Linked DNA regions of Homo sapiens: region 2 is linked to region 1. Evidence: fine-mapped expression QTL. A gene starts in region 1. The other region holds a variant in brackets. All regions are shown on one strand. Distances are from middle to middle.

Region 1 (9,535 bases):
TGCAAGTTTGTGTTCTCTCTGAGGTGGCTTTGGGTTTTGGAAACAGTCAAAAGTCTGGTCAATTTGGGGTCAGCATGCTGGACAATACTGTTTGGGGGTTTAAAAAAAACTCTAACAACATAAGCATAACTACAGAGGGATGGAATTTATTTTCTTGGCATGCCCATAAGCTCAATATGAAATATTGGGGAATATGAAATATGAAGCTCAATATGAAATATGGGGAAATGGGAGATTTCCCCAAAGTGGCACTTTGAAAATGTGTGCAGCCACAAAAGCATTGGAGAAAGCTACACTCAATGAGTGTCTAGATTTTTCAAAGTGATTTTTCAAAGATCAGTCTCGCACTTTACAGCTATGTTGTTCATCATGTCTTGGTAGGGGGATTGCCATGTTTATTCTCTTTCTTATGATAAAGCATTTCTGAGGCTGCTGAAGCTCTGACCCATGGTTCCGTCACCAGAGGACTCATCACATTCCATGGGGATCTTAAAAAGACCCAGCAGGGGCTGCCAAGCCTGGCACCTAGGTGCTGTGGCTGGATCATGTTATCTAACCTGGCTCTGTTTCTTGACTCCCTGTAAGCTCATTTGTCTGCTGGTGCAGCAACATGACATTTCAGGAGGGCTCTACCTGCTTGGCATATGCTCATAGCTGAACAGCTGCGAGAGCCAGCTACCTCCAAACACATGGAAGGAATGTGGCGGGTGGCAGGTGGCGGGGTGGGGTGGCGGGTGGTGGGGGGTAGGGGGGTGGGTGTTGCTTCCTGCTTTTTGTGATTTGGGGCACTGAAGATGCCATCTGCAGTACTTTTCAGAGGTATCAGAGCCTATCTGCCCTTCAAGAAGGATCTGGATTAAATTATAGATCCTTCTGTGTGAGAGAGCCCCCAGAGACATCCTGATCCAGGTTTATATAATGAATAAGGCTAGAGCTTTCCCTTGACAACAGGCTTTGGTAAATGGAAAAAGGGATCATTAGAGGAGATGACAGGGTTGCCAAAGGGACTGGAGAAAGAAGAGACTGGGCAGCTGAAGACAAGCATCAAGGATGACATCATAGCTTTGTTTAAAGCCACCTTCAGAGAACACAAACTTACAACAAATTGCAAATCTGTATTGACAGTTGTAGAAATTGGGCAGCCTTATCATGGAGCACCCAGAATAACTCCCTTTTACTGGTTAATGATCGTGGGGTTGGACAAGAATGGTTGGGGATGACCCCACCATGCAGCATGGAACAGGATGGCCCCTGGTTGTTTACTTTCCCATCAAACATTCTCCCTGCTCCAAAGCATCAGCCCTGTATATGTAGGGTCACCTCTCCCCAGTCTCGGAAGCTTTGGGTAGGGATGAAGCATGTGACCAGGCTTGAGACAATCAATTCATCATGGTTCCCTGACTGCAGTGATTGGTTCAGGGTTGGCAGCAACAATGACATTCTACGACACTTTTGCTGGGAGTGCTGGGACCTAGGCAGAGGTCTTTCTAGTCAGACTTGAACTTGAGAGGGTGTAAAGCTGGAATGCCTGCAGCCATCTTGAAACTACCAGGAGCCTGAGACTGAAGTCAATGCAGTGCAGACAGAGCAGAGAGTTGGAAAGAACCAGGTACTGATGACATTGCTTGCACTCAGAATTCAGTCATGTGTGAAGGCTGACCTTCCATTGGACTTTTCAGTTGTCTTTTCTTAAATAAGTTTAGGTTGAGCCATCTGTTGTTTGTCACCATAGAAGCGTTGACTGTGATAGTTCCGAGTAGCTGGTGGGACAGGACTGATGCAATGATGTAAGTTGCAAGGTGGTGTGTAGCAATTCCCTGTAAGGAAATGCTTTTGAAAGAGCCATCTGAAGAGGGTACATGCTCCCTCAAGGGTGAATGCCTTTTCAGTGGCAGGATTTGCACCCTGCACTGGATGAGCACTTGGGGGAGATAATGGAGAATAAATTCCAGCAAAATGGGGGGTTTTATTGGGCACTTCTTTCGATCTATGTGTTTCAGAGTCTCTTAATGACCATGAAGTGAAGTTACATGCCCCTTCTGACTCCCTCTCTGGGTATCTCTATACAAATACGAAGTGATAAACTGAATATTCTCTCTGTGACCCTGGTAACAGACCCTGGTGGGCAGGATTGTCACGACTACGTCTCCTCCACCAACCTAACCTCGGGTGGTTTCTCTGCTCTGTCAGACAGGGTAACTCCTTTTGCCCTCCAAAACCACTTCCACCTTCTGCTCCTTGCACCTACTTTCTTGCCCCTACCAAGAATTTCTCCCCCTTATTTTTTTCTTTCTTTGCCTTACAAAAGCCAGCTCATTTTTTTTTCCTTTTCTTTTTTTTCTTTTTTTTTCAGATGGAGTCTCACTTTGTCGCCCAGGCTGGAGTGCAGTGGCGTGATCTCGGGCTCACTGCAACCTCCACCTCCCGGGTTCAAGCGATTCTCCTGCCTCATCCTCCTGAGTAGCCAGGACTACAGGCATGCGCCACCATGCCCAGCTAATTTTTGTATCTTGAGTAGAGATGGGGTTTCACCCTGTTGGCCAGGATGGTGTCGATCTCTTGACCTCATGATCCTCCTGCCTCGGGCTCCCAAAGTGCTGGGATTACAGACATGAGCCATCGCGCCTGGTCCAAAAGCCAGCTCCTTTCCGTGAGGCTGTGTCCTCAGGCTATCTCAGACTGATGATGTGGTTCCAACTTCTGACCTCTGAGCGATCCAGATTTCTGAAGCATGTGTTTGTGACTTATTAATACTGCTTTGCATACTTCCCTGATGTCTCCTTGTGGTCTATCAGCTCCCCATCTTCTTGAAGGCAGAGACAGATTATGAATCGTCTCACCCAGCACACAACTTTGCACAGGCTGTACTCAAACTCAGCAGATGCTTATAGGTAAGTGGTGCCCCAATGTCAGGGGCTATTGTCAGAATGCCCTGCTGGAATATGGCCACCTGACAATCTCAGACCGAGATCATCAGTGTTCACTAGGCTGCCTATGGGCTCTCCTACAGCACTTTGCCAATCCGTGGGAGTTGTTATGTCCAAGGTAGTTGCTGGGCCCAAGATACAGAGGAGACAGAAGCATACCTCCTCCCTCCAAGACCTTCCTACCTTACCTGCACCTGACACCCCATGTGCCTGATGATATATACGTGTATATATATATCATATATATAGCCATATATAATATATATGAATGAATATATCATATATATAGCCATATATATATATATATATGTATGAATAAATATTTATTCATTTACTAAGTACCAACCAGGTATCCACAGTGTGCCGGGCACTGGGCATAGAGTGATGAGGAATGCAGATACAGCTCCTGCCTGTGGTGCCTCAGGGCTGGAGTCCCTCCCACACAGAGCCTGGGTTGTTCCTACTCCCTCTGCCTCTCTCTCTCTAGACCCTGAGATATCTGGGCTCAGGTATCTCTGATCTGCACGTGTTTCCTTTGGAGGTAGGGTCTGTTTGCCCTTTGCTGATGCCAAGGGCTTCCTCCTAAGTTCTTTCTACCTGCTCCCCCTTTTATCCAGGACTGAGCCATAGCTCCTTAGTCCCAGGAACCACCTTCTAATCCGTGTCCTCTGCTCACACAATTTTGGCTGGGTCTCTCCTAAAATCCAAGAGAGGCCTGGGCTCCCCAGGAACAACCTAATGGTTATAATCACTGTGTGTTTTGCATTTTAAATGTCTGCTTGGTTTAAATTAGTGAAGCCAAGAAGTCAAAATTCTAAGAAAAGTAAATAAAATTCTGACCGGTTTGGGAAAAGCAAATCCAAGCTCCTGCTGGGCTCCAGCTGGAGGTCGTGACCCCTAGGCTGCGAGGGTTGGGCTTTTGGCTCTTAACCTGAGGATGAGGCTCTGGGTTCTACCTGCTGCCTGGCTGACGGCTGGTTGAATGCTGTGTCAGCGACGAGCGACCCTGACTTCCCACACACCGGCCAGGCCAGGGACGGTGGCAGGAGCTTTTTCATATTCCACAGTTCAGCAGCCCCAAGCTGCTGGGGGCGGAGGACAGGTGGTGGGGGAGAGAGGATTCGGTCCCCAGGGGCCACCTGGCGCTGGTGGCATGGCGGGGAGCCAGGCTTGCCTTTGCCCTCTCTCTGTGCCGGAGCCCTGGACCCTGGCTGGCATCTCCTGAGAGCAAAGCGAAGCCCGCGAGTGATCTCTGGGGAACTTCCTAGAAAAAAGAAAGAATTTCAGGTTCGAACGGTGTAGGGAGGGCCGAACACGGGAGCAAGGTTGGCCAGGGCTGCCCTGAGCCCTGGAGAATCCCCAGAGCGATCGTCCACTACATGCCCACGTGCGTGCGTGTGCCAGGGAGCGAGAGCCCGGACAGCGGGAGTCGGAGGCAGGACCAGGAGCTGCAGAGGGGCCGCGGGCAGAGCCCCAGCGAGCGCGCTGCCCTGGCGCGGAGCCCAGGGGCCGCCCACTGGCGGGGGAGGCGGGGAGCGCGCAGGGAGGCGGCGGCGGCGGTGGGGCTTCCCCGGGCTTCCCCTCCCCGGTCCGCGGGTGCCCGGCGCGGGCCCAGGAGGCGGAGGCGGCTCCTGGGGAGAGGGATCCGGGAGTCCCTGAGGCGGCCCCGGCTCCGCACTAGGAGGCGGGGTCCGCAGTATCGCCAGCGGCCGGCGCGGCTTCCCGGAGCCCCGGAGCCCGAGGCGCGAGGTTTAGGCTGAGCCCTCCCCGGCGCCTGCCCCCGCCCGGCGCCCGCCTCCGCCCCCGCCCGCGGCCTGGAGCGCGCCTCCCTCGCCTCCCAGGGTCTGGCGAGCCGGCGCCGGCCGAGCTGCGGGAGCCGCGGAGAGCACCAGCTGACGCCGCGGGAGCTGCTCCGGCCGCACCATGCGGGAGCTGGCCATTGAGATCGGGGTGCGAGCCCTGCTCTTCGGAGTCTTCGTGTAAGTAGTGGCGCACCGCGGGCAGGGCGCACTGACGCGGGGGAACAACCGACCAAGCCTCTCTGTGCCCTAACTTAGTTTGCGCAGCCGCTTCCCACTGGGGCCTGGGTTCGAGGTCCCTTCCCCGCCAAGTGCCCGCAACGTGTCCTACGGGACCAAGAGAGACCCTTCCTCTCTCCTTCCTGGGACCCTAGGCGCGGAGCGACCACCGCGCGCCGAGGCTGAGACCTGCTCCCGGGTCTCACCGGGCCCGCGCCTGTCGCCAGCCCCGCACCACCTGCCCGGGGGATCCAGGGCTGCACCTCTAAACAGGGACGCGCACCCTGGCCCGTGCCCTCGGGAAGTTTCTCCTTCTGTGTGATCTTTGAGGCCCACGTTGGAAGTCTTTACCCCTGGCCCCGTCTCCGATTCCTCCCCGCTGTGCCCAGGGCCAGACTCCTTCCGTGTCCCTGGCTTTAGCGCCCGCGGTCCTGGCGAGCGTTTTCCCAGCGGGCGTTTGCGGCGCTTCTCCTACTGAGAAACTGTTGCTGTGGAGGCTTGAGAAGTCAAGGGGCTGCAGGCCGGGGTGGGATACACACACCCTGGAGCTCTGTGCCCGGTCGATGTCCGCTTTGGGGGCGGAGGCCCTCCAGGGGTAGCCGTGAAATGCCCAGGGTGGCTTTGAGCGGCTGGCACTGAGAACAGCGATCCCGAAAAGAAGAAGGGGTGGTGGCGCAGGTTCTTTCAGAGATGCCTGAGCCTCCTCCGTGCGCCCAGGGACCCACCGCTCATTGACTTCCAGGGCCCAAGCTGCAGGGAGCTGTCACATCTCTCTTTCAGACCTGAGCCCAGAACACCAGCTCAGAGCCACCCCGCAGCCTCCCGTGAGCTGCTGTCACCTAGGCACCCACACCTGCACTGGTCCCTCCATCAGTGAGCCAAATTCTCTCCCCCTCTCTGCCCATGGATGTTTTCTGCCACATTCTAAGTATTAAAGTTACATGAACTTTTTGGATTTGCCATGCATTTATTTATTTGTTTGTTTTTGTTTTCGTTTCTGGAAAAGCCCTCCCGAGCCAAACAGGAGGCCCTCTTTGAATTTCTGCCTCAATCTGGAGTCATCCATGGCAGGTGTGCTGTGTCAAAGATGACTTCTGTTCTGGGCAGCCCAGGGGATACACATGGAAAGAAATGCCCTTTCTTGCATGTTTTTCTTTAGCAGGGATTAAATTCATCCAGAGTATTTATTCACACCATCAGAAAAGGCCATGAGCTCCCCCAGATGCAAGCAAGCCCCCCTCTCCCGCCTTCTGCCCGAACACTGGTGTTATTCACTGGGAAGAAGGAACGAGAACTTCAGTTGGATTTTGATGCATTTGGAAAAACAAAACACTCTTCCCTTCTCCTACTCTATTTTCTACCTTTGGAATGTACGTTAAAACTAATGATTGCTGTGTGATCAGATGGGGACAGTTTCTAATTGGCAGATGGGCTAAAACCTCATTAAATTATTATGTGATAGAAATGATAAACTAGTTTTCAGTGCACAGTAGAATTTAACATTTGTTGGGTGAATGTAGGAAGAATGCTGAGATAAAGTGAGATAGGCTCTTACACTATCTCACTATCTGGTTTGACTGCTGCTGGGGGTGCTCAGATAAAAAAGGGTCCAACAATATGTAAAAATATTTATAGTTTTCAGGTGTCCCTTCCAATATCCCCCCCAAATATTTATGAGATGTTTACAGATATACAATGGTCTATGCAGTAAATTTGAAAACTTGGTAATTATTGCTTATGCGCGTCTTGCTTTTTCTAAGGGTGTCATGTAAAAGCTGGACAGGCAGTTTATGTTCTGTTCTCTGAAGTTCCCTCTTGTGTTACTTAATAGGGGATCTGTTGTCACACATGGACATTGATAGCATTTTTGGATGACTCCCAGGTTTCTTATCAAGTTGTTAACAGTGTGTCCAACTTGTGGCTCTTTTACCTGCAAAAACCAGCTTTGGTATTGATGCGAGCCTCCCTAGGGGGCAGATCTTGGATGTTCAGATGCTGTTAGTATCAGGCATGTACCGACTTCTGGGAGGACGGCTGGGAGCATGCAGAAACAGATGACCCTTTGTTTTCTCAGATAAGCGTCTGGCACCTTGACAGAGGCTGACTTTTGGGGGAAGTTTAATTCTTCCTTTTGCCAGTACTGGAAATGATGGCAATATTGGGTTGTACCTACCTCTGCTCACGAAGATGGTGGTCTTAGCAGCACAGGGGTTTAGAAAGTGCCCCTGGGCAGGCTGAATCCGATTTCCCTGCTTCAGCCAGTGTAGCTCAGCAGCTAGTTTTGCTTGGTATTTCTACCCTATTGCTCAGGATGAAAGAATTATCTGCGGGGAGAGGGGGTATCTTGCTTCTTTGCAAACTTATGCCCCCGGAGAAACATCACCTGTAGATGTGCCTGTTCTCTGACTACATTTGCTCTGCATGAGAGCAGGGATCCTGTTACCCGTAGCCCATATGCTCCTCAAAGATTCCAAGTGAGAGCTAAGAAAATGCATTTTGGGCCCACGGGTAGTAGGGATGCAAGCTTTTCCTTACTGACTCTTAAAGATCCCTTTTTCTGTTTCTAGACTAGGCACAGTGCTGAGGTTTTGTGCATTCAGAATTCTGAGAGGTTGCTCTCCAGGCACCCCCGCTCCCGCAACCAACCCGTAGATGCTCAGTCCTGCCTAAGGACTTCAAATCGCTGGGAAGGAAATTAGTAGAGTAATGCAAATCAAGGCTGGCATATAAAGTTTAACATAACAGAAGATAAATTGGTTACAGGAACCCAGTGTTTAGGAAAAATAAAAGTAAAATGTGAAGCTTTGAGGCTGTGTTTAGTACCATGAAGTGTGTAGGCCTTGAGGTCCTATTGCTCTTACTCATGGATTGTGGGCAGAGCAGGAAGGAGAAGCACTTTTGGGCTTCTTCTGTCCTGCTGCTACCCAAGACTCCAGGAGAGATTCTTTTGAGTATTTCTGCAAATGCCAAGGCTAGCAACAGACCTTACTCAGCAAGCACATAGTGTAGAAATGAGATGGCTGGTTAACACCCAGCAGACCAATGGTGCACTACTAGAAGCATGCTACTCACTTTGACCACTATCACCAGTACAATAGCAATCATTTACTGAGATCTTACTGTGTGTCAGGCACCAATGAAGACTATCCCGTATGCCATTTAGCCTGATGAAGGGGGTATATTGATATTTCTTTGTCATAGATGAAGAAACTGAAGCACAGTAAAATTAAGGAACTTCCCAAGTAACAGGGCTAACAAGGGCAGCTCTGAGATCTAAATCTAGATGCTCCATCTGCAAGGTCTGGACTCTCAATCACTTTGCTTCATAAAAAATAGCAGCCAGTTTTGGTCAGTCCAGGGCTAACTTCATGCAAAAGGTATTCCATGTGATTTCTCTTTTAAGCCTCATCTCACTGGATTCTGTTCATTATTCCCACTTTACAAACAAAGAAACCAAGGTTTAGAAAGGTTGAGTAAGTTGCCTGAAGTCACTCAGCTAGCAGGAGGTATAACCCTGATTCAAACAGGCAGCTGACCCCATGTCCCTGAGTGGTCAGCCTCTGAGACAGAAGACATCCAGCCCCAGGCTTCCAGACTGGTGCTAAACTGACCACATCCTGTGAGCAATTCCTTCCATGACTCCTTATCTCCAGAAGAGCAAGTACACATTGCCTGGAGTGATGTGTGGGAAGCTGTCACTGTAGCTCTAAAATCTCATGCTAGGATGACACCTCAAAGGTGGAGGGATGGCAGCAGTGGTTCACACTTCCTAAAAGATGGGATTTGATCATGGCATAGATTTTAAGAGTACGATGTGGTGAGTAAATTGCCGGTGAGAACATCAATTGTAGTAGTAAGAAACTAGGAATACACTGCTTTCTTCCACCGTTTTTGGCTGTCATCTCCCAGGACATCTGTTAGTTCAAGCACTCTGTATTTACAAGATTGCAGAAAGGACCCTAGAAAGATGATGACGATCTCATGTGCTGGACGGGGGGAAAGATGGTCTGTCTGTTTCACTTGTAGGCTTGAGTTCCTTGGCGTCTTATCTTCCTCTTTCCTTCCTTCCATCTGCCCTTCTCCCTATCCCTCCCTGTCATTTCTGGTGGCTCTCTGTCTGCAGGGTCCCCCTAGGAGCTGCTTAGGATGCCAGGGTGCACAGGTAATGGTGTTTACCTCCCCTTAGATAATCCAGCATCCTTCTTTGAGCTCTTAGGATGCAAGAGGCCTTTGCCAGGCACAGGGGATGAGAGGAGAGAAGGCCAGGTGGCCCCCAGTACCTTACAGTCCAGTAGGGAAAGTACACAGTGGGCCACCATTTGTTATTGTCTCCAATGCAATTACTGGCTTTGAAAATTTTGCCTCCAAACATTTCTCTTTCATTGTTCATCCACTTGATGGATATTTGGCACCTTCTAGGTGCAAGCATTTGTGATAGTCATTTCCTTTTCCCTTCATTGGTACGCTTTGATTGGTGTAATTCCAGCAAGACAGAGGGAAACTTGGTGCTTTACCTGGTCCAGGTGACTTGCTTGAGGGCACTGGATGTCAGGTAGATTTTTGAAATATCGACAAAAACAGACTCATCTT
Region 2 (9,535 bases), 270 kb after region 1:
TTTATGTAGCTAGTTTTGCTAAAATTCTTAGCTTTAGCCATTGAGAGCTCTTTCAGTTGGCTTCTGTGTCCCTTTGACATACCCCTTAATTGTGGGGTGTTTTGTTTGTTTTTGAGCTTTTCCCTACATTTTGGCATGATAAGAGATGTTCCAGGCTCATCTCGTCTATTTACTGCCTCAGTCCTACCATCAGCATTTCTCCATGGAGCCCTGGTTCCTTTAATTGAAGAATAGTTTTAGAATCCAAGATCTGGCCAGGCGCGGTGGCTCATGCCTGTAAATCTCAGCACTTTGGGAGGTCGAGGCCGGCAGATCACAAGGTCAGGAGATCGAGACCATCCTGGCTAACACGGTGAAACCCCGTTTCTACTAAAAATACAAAAAATTAGCCGGGCGTGATGGCGGGCGCCTGTAGTCCCAGCTACTCCGGAGGCTGAGGCAGGAGAATGGCGTGAACCCGGGAGGTGGAGCTTGCAGTGAGCCGAGATCGCGCCACTGCACTCCAGCCTGGGCGACAGAGCGAGATTTCGTTTCAAAAAAAAAAAAAAGAATCCAAGATCTGGAGTTAGGTATGTGATATGGGGTTTGGCTCTGTATCCCCACCCAAATCTCACCTTCAATTGTGATAATCCCCACGTGTCATGGGAGGGACCTGGTGGGAGGTAACTGAATCATGGGGCCAGTTTTTCCCGTGCTGTCTTGTGATAGTGAATAAGTCTCACAAGATCTGATGGTTTGATAAAGGGGAGGTCTCCTGCACAAGCTCTCTCTTGCTTTCTGCCCTGTAAGATGTAACTTGCTCCTATTCACCTTCCACCATGATTGTGAGGCCTCCCCAGCCATGTGGAACTGGGAGTCAATTAAACCTCTTTCCTTTATAAATTACCCAGTCTTGGTGTGTTTTTATTAGCAACGTGAGAACGGACTAATACAACATGCTTGTTGCTACTGAGGTATCATTGCTTCTAGACTCTGTCAGCTAACAGAGCAGGGAAACATCTACATGTATGTAACCCATGAGTATATACATATAGTATCTATAATATTTCTATGTAATGCTTCTTTAGTTTTAATTGTTTGGTTTTAAAAAATAACTTGCTGAAATGGATGTTTAAATTCTTGATTTTAAAACTTTATCTTTTTAATGTCTGTATTAAGGGTTATGAAATCTCTAAGCATACCATTAGCTGTATCCTACACATTTTATATGCATGTTTAATTACTATACCATACAAAATACTTTATAATTTTTATTGTGATTTCTTCTGTGACCCATGGGCTATTTAGAATTACATTTTTCAATTTTCTAATGTATGCAGCTTTTATAGTTATGTATTTTATAATTAATTTATAGTTTTATAGCTTAATTGTATTAAATTGTATTATACTCAGAGAACATACTCAATGATTGCAATCATTTGAAATTGTTAGATATTTGCTTTATGATACAACTTATTGTCAATTTTGGTAAACATTTTGTGTGTGCTTGAAAACAAATATGCATTCTGTGGTTCTTCAATGCAGTGTTCTATGTGTGCATATTAATCTTGTTTTCCAAAGATGTTATTGAAATATTCTAAATTCTTACTGAATTTTTATCTGCTTGTTCTATTTGTTATCAACAGTTATATTAATTTCTCTCTTGTAAGGGTGGGCTTGTCTTTTTCTCTGTGGCTCTGTCAAGTTTTGCATTATATTTTGTGAGACTGTGCTATTAGGTATATGCAAATTGTGAATAGTTATAGCTTCCTGATGAATTGAAGCATAATATTACAAAATGTCTTTTTTGTCATTTGTAATGCTTTTTGGTCTTAAAGTTTGCCTTATCTGATATGAATATAGTTTTCTTTTTATAGTGTTTGAATTGCATATCTTTTATTTTCATTCTTTTCGTCAACTTATATTTTATTTGTTCACACATTTTTATATTTCATTTGCTTACCCATTACTGAGCTTTTCTCCTTTCCTATTCTGACAGTATTTTTCTTTTAATCGGGTCATTTACCCATTTATATAAAATATATTTAGGTTTAACCCTACCATCTTATTCAATGCTATTTGTCCTGTCTGTTTTATGTTCTCTTTTCTCTCCTTTCTCACTTTCTTTTAGATTAATTGGGAATTTTTATTATTCCATCTTCCCCCTTTTTAGCTTCCATATTACACACCTTTAAACAATTCTTTTAATGTATATCCTAGAATTACAGACCGTGGGACAAATTCAGCCCATCACCTGTTCTTGTATGGCCTATAAGAATATCTCATGGCATCTGAAAATTTAATTAAATTCAAACGTCATTGCTTATAAGTAAAGTTTTATTAGAACTTTTGTTGTCTTTTACAACTGCATAATCTGTATATATCAAAGATTTTCCAGAACAGGAAACTAAAGCACAATATAGAAAATAATTGAATAGAAATTATAAAAATTCTGATAGGCTTGTACAAATCCTAATTTCAGATATTTCTATTAATCAAATGATCTTTTTTGTTCCATTGATCACCCTTATAATAAATGATGTTATGCATTATACATTATACATTAAATATTGCATACTAATTATGTTACTTTAATACATAAACATGTGCCAAAAAACTCCACTTTAGTTTTTGAGTTTCAGGAGATTAATTTTGAAAATAGGATTTACATGCTCAAAAGTATGCAAATGAATAGATGAATCTAACCAACTAACTTGAGCTAAAGAAAAAAAATGATGTTGATTTCATATGTTAGCACTCCAAATAACCCATGAACACTGTATTGTAAGCCTTCCTGGGCCTTAACCCAAAACAAACATGGATACGAATTTCAAGATAATTTGGGGTGTATTCAGCAATCCTTAAAGCAGAGTAACTTGTGGGTCAGATACACTTTGCCTTTACATTGTGTTAAGTCTTCCTGTGTTTGTTGCCAGCATGTTTAAATTGGGATGTTTTATATGGAACAAAATCTACATTTCTGCCTTCTCTTAGAACACGGGCAGAAGTGAGCCAGCATATCTCACATAGCAATACTGGGTTGAAGCTTAGTAGATGTTGTCCTCTGTATTGGGTCTTAGGGCTGCCATAGCAAAGTACCACAAACTGGGTGGTTTAAATAACAGAAATGTATCATCTCAGCTCTGGAGGCTAGAAGTCCCAGATCAACATGTTGGCAGAGCTGGTTCCTCCCGCTGGCTGTGAGGGAGAATCTGGTCTATGCCTCTCTCCTAGCTTCTGATGCTTTCCTGGCAATCCTTGGAATTCCTTGGCTTGTAGTTGCATCCCGTCAACCTTTGCATTCATGGTTCACCTGGCATTATCCCTGTGTGCATGCCTGTGTCCACATTTCCCCCTTTTATTTTATTTTTTATTTATTTTTGAGATGGAGTCTCACTCTGTTGTCCAGGCTGGAGTGCATCGGTGCAGTCTCGGCTCACTGCACCCTCCACCTCCTGGGTTCAAGTGATTCTTCTGCCTCAACCTCCTGAGTAGGTGGGATTGTAGGCATGTGCCACCATGCCTGGCTAATTTTTGTATTCTTAGTAGAGACAGGGTTTCCCCATGTTGGCCAGGCTGGTCTCGGACTCCTGACTTCAAGTGATCTGCCTGCTTTGGCCTCCCAAAGTGCGGGAATTAGAGGCGTGAACCACCTTGCCTGGCCTACATTTCCCCTTTTTATAAGGACACCAGTCATATTGGCTAAGGAGTCCACCCCCCTCTACCATGACCTCATCATAAGTAATTACATTTGCAACAACCCTATTTTCTTTTTTTTTATTTTTTTATTTTTTATTTTTATTTTTTATTATTATACTTTAAGTTTTAGGGTACATGTGCACAATGTGCAAGTTTGTTACATATGTATACATGTGCCATGTTGGTGTGCTGCACCCATTAACTCGTCATTTAGCATTAGGTATATCTCCTAATGCTATCCCTCCCCCCTCCCCCCACCCCACAACAGTCCCCGGTGTGTGATGTTCCCCTTCCTGTGTCCATATCTTCTCATTGTTCAATTCCCACCTATGAGTGAGAACATGCGGTGTTTGGTTTTTTGTCCTTGCGATAGTTTGCTGAGAATGATGGTTTCCAGTTTCATCCATGTCCCTGCAAAGGACATGAACTCTTCATTTTTTATGGCTGCATAGTATTCCATGGTGTATATGTGCCACATTTTCTTAATCCAGTCTATCGTTGTTGGACATTTGGGTTGGTTGCAAGTCTTTGCTATTGTGAATAGTGCCGCAATAAACATACGTGTGCATGTGTCTTTACAGCAGCATGATTTATAATCCTTTGGGTATATACCCAGTAATGGGATGGCTGGGTCAAATGGTATTTCTAGTTCTAGATCCCTGAGGAATCGCCACACTGATTTCCACAATGGTTGAACTAGTTTACAGTCCCACCAACAGTGTAAAAGTGTTCCTATTTCTCCACATCCTCTCTAGCACCTGTTGTTTCCTGACTTTTTAATGATCGCCATTCTAACTGGTGTGAGATGGTATCTCA[C/T]TGTGGTTTTGATTTGCATTTCTCTGATGGCCAGTGATGAGGAGCATTTTTTCATGTGTTTTTTTGGCTGCATAAATGTCTTCTTTTGAGAAGTGTCTGTTCATATCCTTTGCCCACTTTTTGATGGGGTGCAACAACCCTATTTTCAAATAAAGCCACATTCTTAGGTATTGGGAATGAGAACTTCAACATATAAATTTGAATTGACACAATTCAATCCTTAACACCCCTTTTAGAAGGGACATGCATTCCCTCATTCCCCACAATTGCCATTTGATAGAGTATTCATTCCTGGCCCACTAAGATATTTAAGTTTGTGATCCTTGTCCTAAATCCCATAGGCTTAGGAGGCTGTATACCTGACAGGTAGACCTAAATATTAGGAAATCATAAGATCATAGGATGTCAGAGAAGGGAAGAACCTCTGAGATTAACTGTTGTCACCCTCTTGCCCTATTGCAGAGGGGCAAATCTAAAAAATGCTCTCACTGGTCTTTTCCAAAATCGTTCCCGTAATAGTACCTAAGATTCTTATTATTTACCTAAGATTAAAAAAATCCATTGCATCAAATTTATTTGAAAAGGGAGATAAGTTTGACAAAACTGTCTTTTCAGTTCCACAACACGGCATACAAATCCCTTTCCTTATAACTTTTCTCAGAAACTGGCTTGTGGAATTTGGTTTATCCTGTAGGGCCTTAGTATTATTTTTTGTTTGTTTGTTTATTAGAGTTTTTGCACTGGATGCTCTGTTCCTTAGAAAATAAAGAGGCTTTCCAAGTAAATAGGGCCATTGTGTACAAATTAGAGTTCAGGAAGGATGCTTCTCAATGGTTCAGCTGTTTCATAGGCTACTTAACATACAGCATGGGTAAACATGAGTTCCCATGTACAAAGGGTTTTTCTAAATTTATAGCTTCCAAACAGCCATTAATTTTGCTGCCATATGGGTCACAAGAGGCAGGCTGATAAATCTTTCATCCGCAGTGGATTATGTTTTCCCATATGTATGTTTATTTTCAGAATCCATGTGTATTTCAGCTAGGGTGCAGCTGATCTTCTACAAAAACTCTGCAAGTTCATAAGAAGGAATCAATAATATACTGTACCCGCCTGCTCTTGATAAACTCTGACTCCTTAGGTATTCAGAAGAGAATCCAGGGAGATCCTGATTCTGCATATCATCCCATATTACAAATGACTATAAAAGTTGGTGAATAATAATGCTTGACCTTTAAGAAGCCAGCAGTTTTCAACCAAGTCAGTCAATAGTGACGAGGCCTTAATCCAAAGCCATTATGAAACTCCAATATTCCCCCCAACCTCAGAAGTTTGTCTTTTTATTCTAGAACTACATTGGGAGTAAATGATTTTTCATCATTATTTAATAATAGCCTAAATCACTGCCTTAAGGTATTTGCCAATTTAGATCTGTTACATGGTAAATATTAAATCACATAGTTTTCTGCTCAACATATTCATCACTGACTATAATTTGCATGGCATAACTTGAATGTAATTTCAAATAATTTGGTACAATAAATATAATGAGAATTAGATTATACCTGCCTAAAGGACAGCACGATTCATATAATTGCTAATGTACTGATTCTTCCATGTATTTTGACATTCATATTAGGTGGCTCTCTTTTTTTGTTATTAATAATGAATTTAAAATGGCTTGCAGTTCAAATTTGATAGTTTTCCAAGTGCTTTCATGTTCTTTGTTTCAAGATTTTTCAAAATGAATAGGAACTGTAGGAAATAGTTTATGTTATTTCCATTGTCTAGAAGAATCTGAGGATCAAGCCAGTTAGTGACTTGTCTATGGGATACAATCTATAAGGACAGAGCTGGGCTCAGGCTTAGGTTTTGTGCCAAGTGCAATGTTCTTTCTTCTTTTTTTTTTTTTTTTTTTTTTTTTTTTTGAGAGGGAGTCTCGCTCTGTCGCCCAGGCTGGAGTGCAGTGGCGCGATCTCGACTCACTGCAAGCTCCGCCTCCCGGGTTCACGCCATTCTCCTGCCTCAGCCTCCCGTGTAGCTGGGACTACAGGCGCGCGCCACCACGCCCGGCTAATTTTTGTATTTTTAGTAGAGACGGGGTTTCACCGTGTTAGCCAGGATGGTCTCGATCTCCTGACATGTTCTTTCTTCTATACTTTGTTGCTTCTGAAAATATTGTGCTTGGGTATTTGTTTTTTACCCTGTAGTTTTAACAAGCCCCACTCGAAAGCACTCTAAAACCCTGGCATGCACTGTGTTTGCAGTCCCTGTTGTACTGTTTCAAAGTAACCCATTCTATTGTGTGCTGAGATTTACTCTATGATAACTCTAACTCATACAAACTAGTAGCTGGGATATTACCTCCAAGGGCCACTGGTCGCCAAAGACTTATGTACTCTGTCCTTGATCAAGCTGAGAGTTTGATATTGAGTTCCAGTGAGAAAGAAGCTACCCTTTCTTTATCTGTAGCTCAGGACACTTCCAAATTGTCTTGCTCATCTCTGTACCTTTCCTCTGCAGCTTCTTCAAAAGGATAAATTAAATTCCTGCAAGAACATCTTTAAATAAACTATACTTGTATTGGCACCCTTGCATTTATGTAGAAATTAAAGGAAGACATATTTTTATTACAAAAATAACTTCTTAATAATAGCTGGGTATGAACTAATTGCTTTCAAGGCTTTGCACATGGTGGCAGGAATTATTACATTAAATGTACACTGTGGCTTTTGGCTTGGGCATACTTGGATGAGGGCTCAGCCACCAGGAGATCCCCACAGTTCTCATCTTTCCAGATAGATGAACTTGATGCCTCCTTTGCATTGAGTATGAGAATGGTATAGGCCCTCCCCCAATAAACTGGTAGGATTTGCATTTAGCAATATTTAACAATAAAAACTATGTTTACTGAGCTTTGCTGTGCCAAGCACTGGGCTAGGTGCTTTCTATGTAATAATGCACGGACTCTGATGCAAAACTACCTTAATTTGAATCCTTCCCCATCTACTGACTAGATATTTAACCATATTGAGTTGCTTAACTTTGTTATGCCTCAGTTTCTGCATCTGTAAAATGAGAATAAGGAGAGTACCTACTTTAGGTGTTACGGAAGTGAATGAGTTCTTAATGTCCAGTACTAAGAACAGTATAGGTATGCAATCAGAACAGAAGAAAGGGTAGTTATTGTTGTTATAATAATGATAAGGAGGAGGATGCTGAACTCTAACCAACTGAGAGTTAAAAAGTATATTTTCTTTTATTGACTTTATTCTTTAACCCCAACTTCAGGAAACTGAAGGCTTGGACAATATTTCCATGACTCATTCAAAGTCAGATGTCAAACAGCTAGTAAATGGCTGAGCTTGGAGAGGAACAGGTTTCTTTGTCTATGACTAACACGTTAATTGATTAAATCATCCAATCCACTGGCCAAACTAGTCAAACAGCCAGCAGGTTTATGATATAGAGGTGAGGGGAATGAGCTTGATGGTGTTATAGGATGGACAGTGGCTTTGGAATCAGAAAATCTTGTCCTGAATCAGCCTTCACTAACTCAAGTCAGTTGACTTCTCCAAGTTTCTATTATTTCATCTATAAAATGATTCCCAATCTAACCCATTCAAGATGGGTGTTCAGAGAAGCAAAGAAATATCATATTTGAGAGAATTTTGTAAATCAAACTGCCATAAATTGTGCCATTTATTAATGTTTGATATTTTACAAAATGATTTTTACTTGTTTTACACAGTTGTTAATTAAAATGACCAAATCACTTGGTTATTGCTTGTAATATATGTGGAATCCAACAGTTTTTTTAACCTACAAGTACATGAATCAGCCTTGAAAACAAGCACGATGATTAATATTGAGTGTCAACTTGATTGGATTGAAGGATGCAAAGTATTTGTTCCTGGGTGTGTCTGTGAGGGTGCTGACAAAGGAGATTAACATTTGAGTCAGTGGACTGGGAGAGGCAGACCCACCCCCAAGCTGAGTGGGCACCATCTAATCAGCTGCCAGCGTGGCTAAAATAAAGTAGGCAGAAGAAAGTGGAAGGAGAGAGATTTGCCGTGTCTTCTGCCCTTCATCTTTCCTCCATGTTGGATACTCTTAAGTTCTTCAGCTTTTGGATTCTTGGACTTACACCAGTGATTTGCTAGGGGCTCTCGGGCTTTCAGCCAGACTGAAGGCTGCACCATCAGCTTCCCTATGTTAGAGGTTTTGAGACTCAGTCTGGATTCCTTGCTCCTCAGCTTGCAGATGCCCTATTGTGGGATCTCACCTTGTGATCATGTGAGTCAACTCTCCTAATAAACTACCCTTTATATATATATGTGTGTGTGTGTGTGTGTGTATGTGTGTATATATATATATATATATTCTATTACTTCCCTTCATATATATAAATATATATAAAAATATATATAAATATATATAAATATGTATAAATATATATAAATATATATAAATATATATAAATATATATAAATATATATAAGTATATATAAATATATATATAAATATATATAAATATATATAAATATATAAATATATATAAATATATAAATATATAAATATATATAAATATATATACCAATATATAAATATATAAATATATATAAATATATATAAATATATAAATATATAAAAATATATATAAATTATACATATATAAATATAAAAATATATAAATATATATATAAATATATATAAATATATATAAATATATAAATATATATATAAATATATATAAATATATAAAAATATATAAATATATATAAATATATATAAATATATATAAATATATATAAATATATAAATATATATAAATATATATAAATATATAAATATATATAAATATATATAAATATATAAATATATATAAATATATATAAATATATAAATATATATAAATATATATAAATATATAAATATATATAAATATAAATATATAAATATATATATAAATATATATAAATATATAAATATATATATAAATATATATAAATATATAAATATATATATAAATATATATAAA

Evidence for each region. PIP is the estimated chance that this variant, and not a neighbour inherited with it, causes the effect.
Region 2: its variant is the best candidate, but not a certain one, in a credible set for the expression of PLPP4 in testis (GTEx, PIP 0.86).

What each region holds. Positions count from the first base shown.
Region 1 is chr10:120,452,456-120,461,990 of GRCh38, forward strand. It overlaps PLPP4 (phospholipid phosphatase 4), which reads left to right and starts at 4,772. Exons shown (of 7, transcript NM_001030059.3): 1 at 4,772-4,906. The coding sequence starts at 4,851.
Region 2 is chr10:120,724,390-120,733,924 of GRCh38, forward strand. The region is part of intron 2 of LINC02930 (long intergenic non-protein coding RNA 2930); the gene reads left to right. Among named protein-coding and RNA genes, the nearest start is that of LINC02930, 120 kb to the left of the region's middle. The variant C/T (reference allele first, on the strand shown) is at 4,495.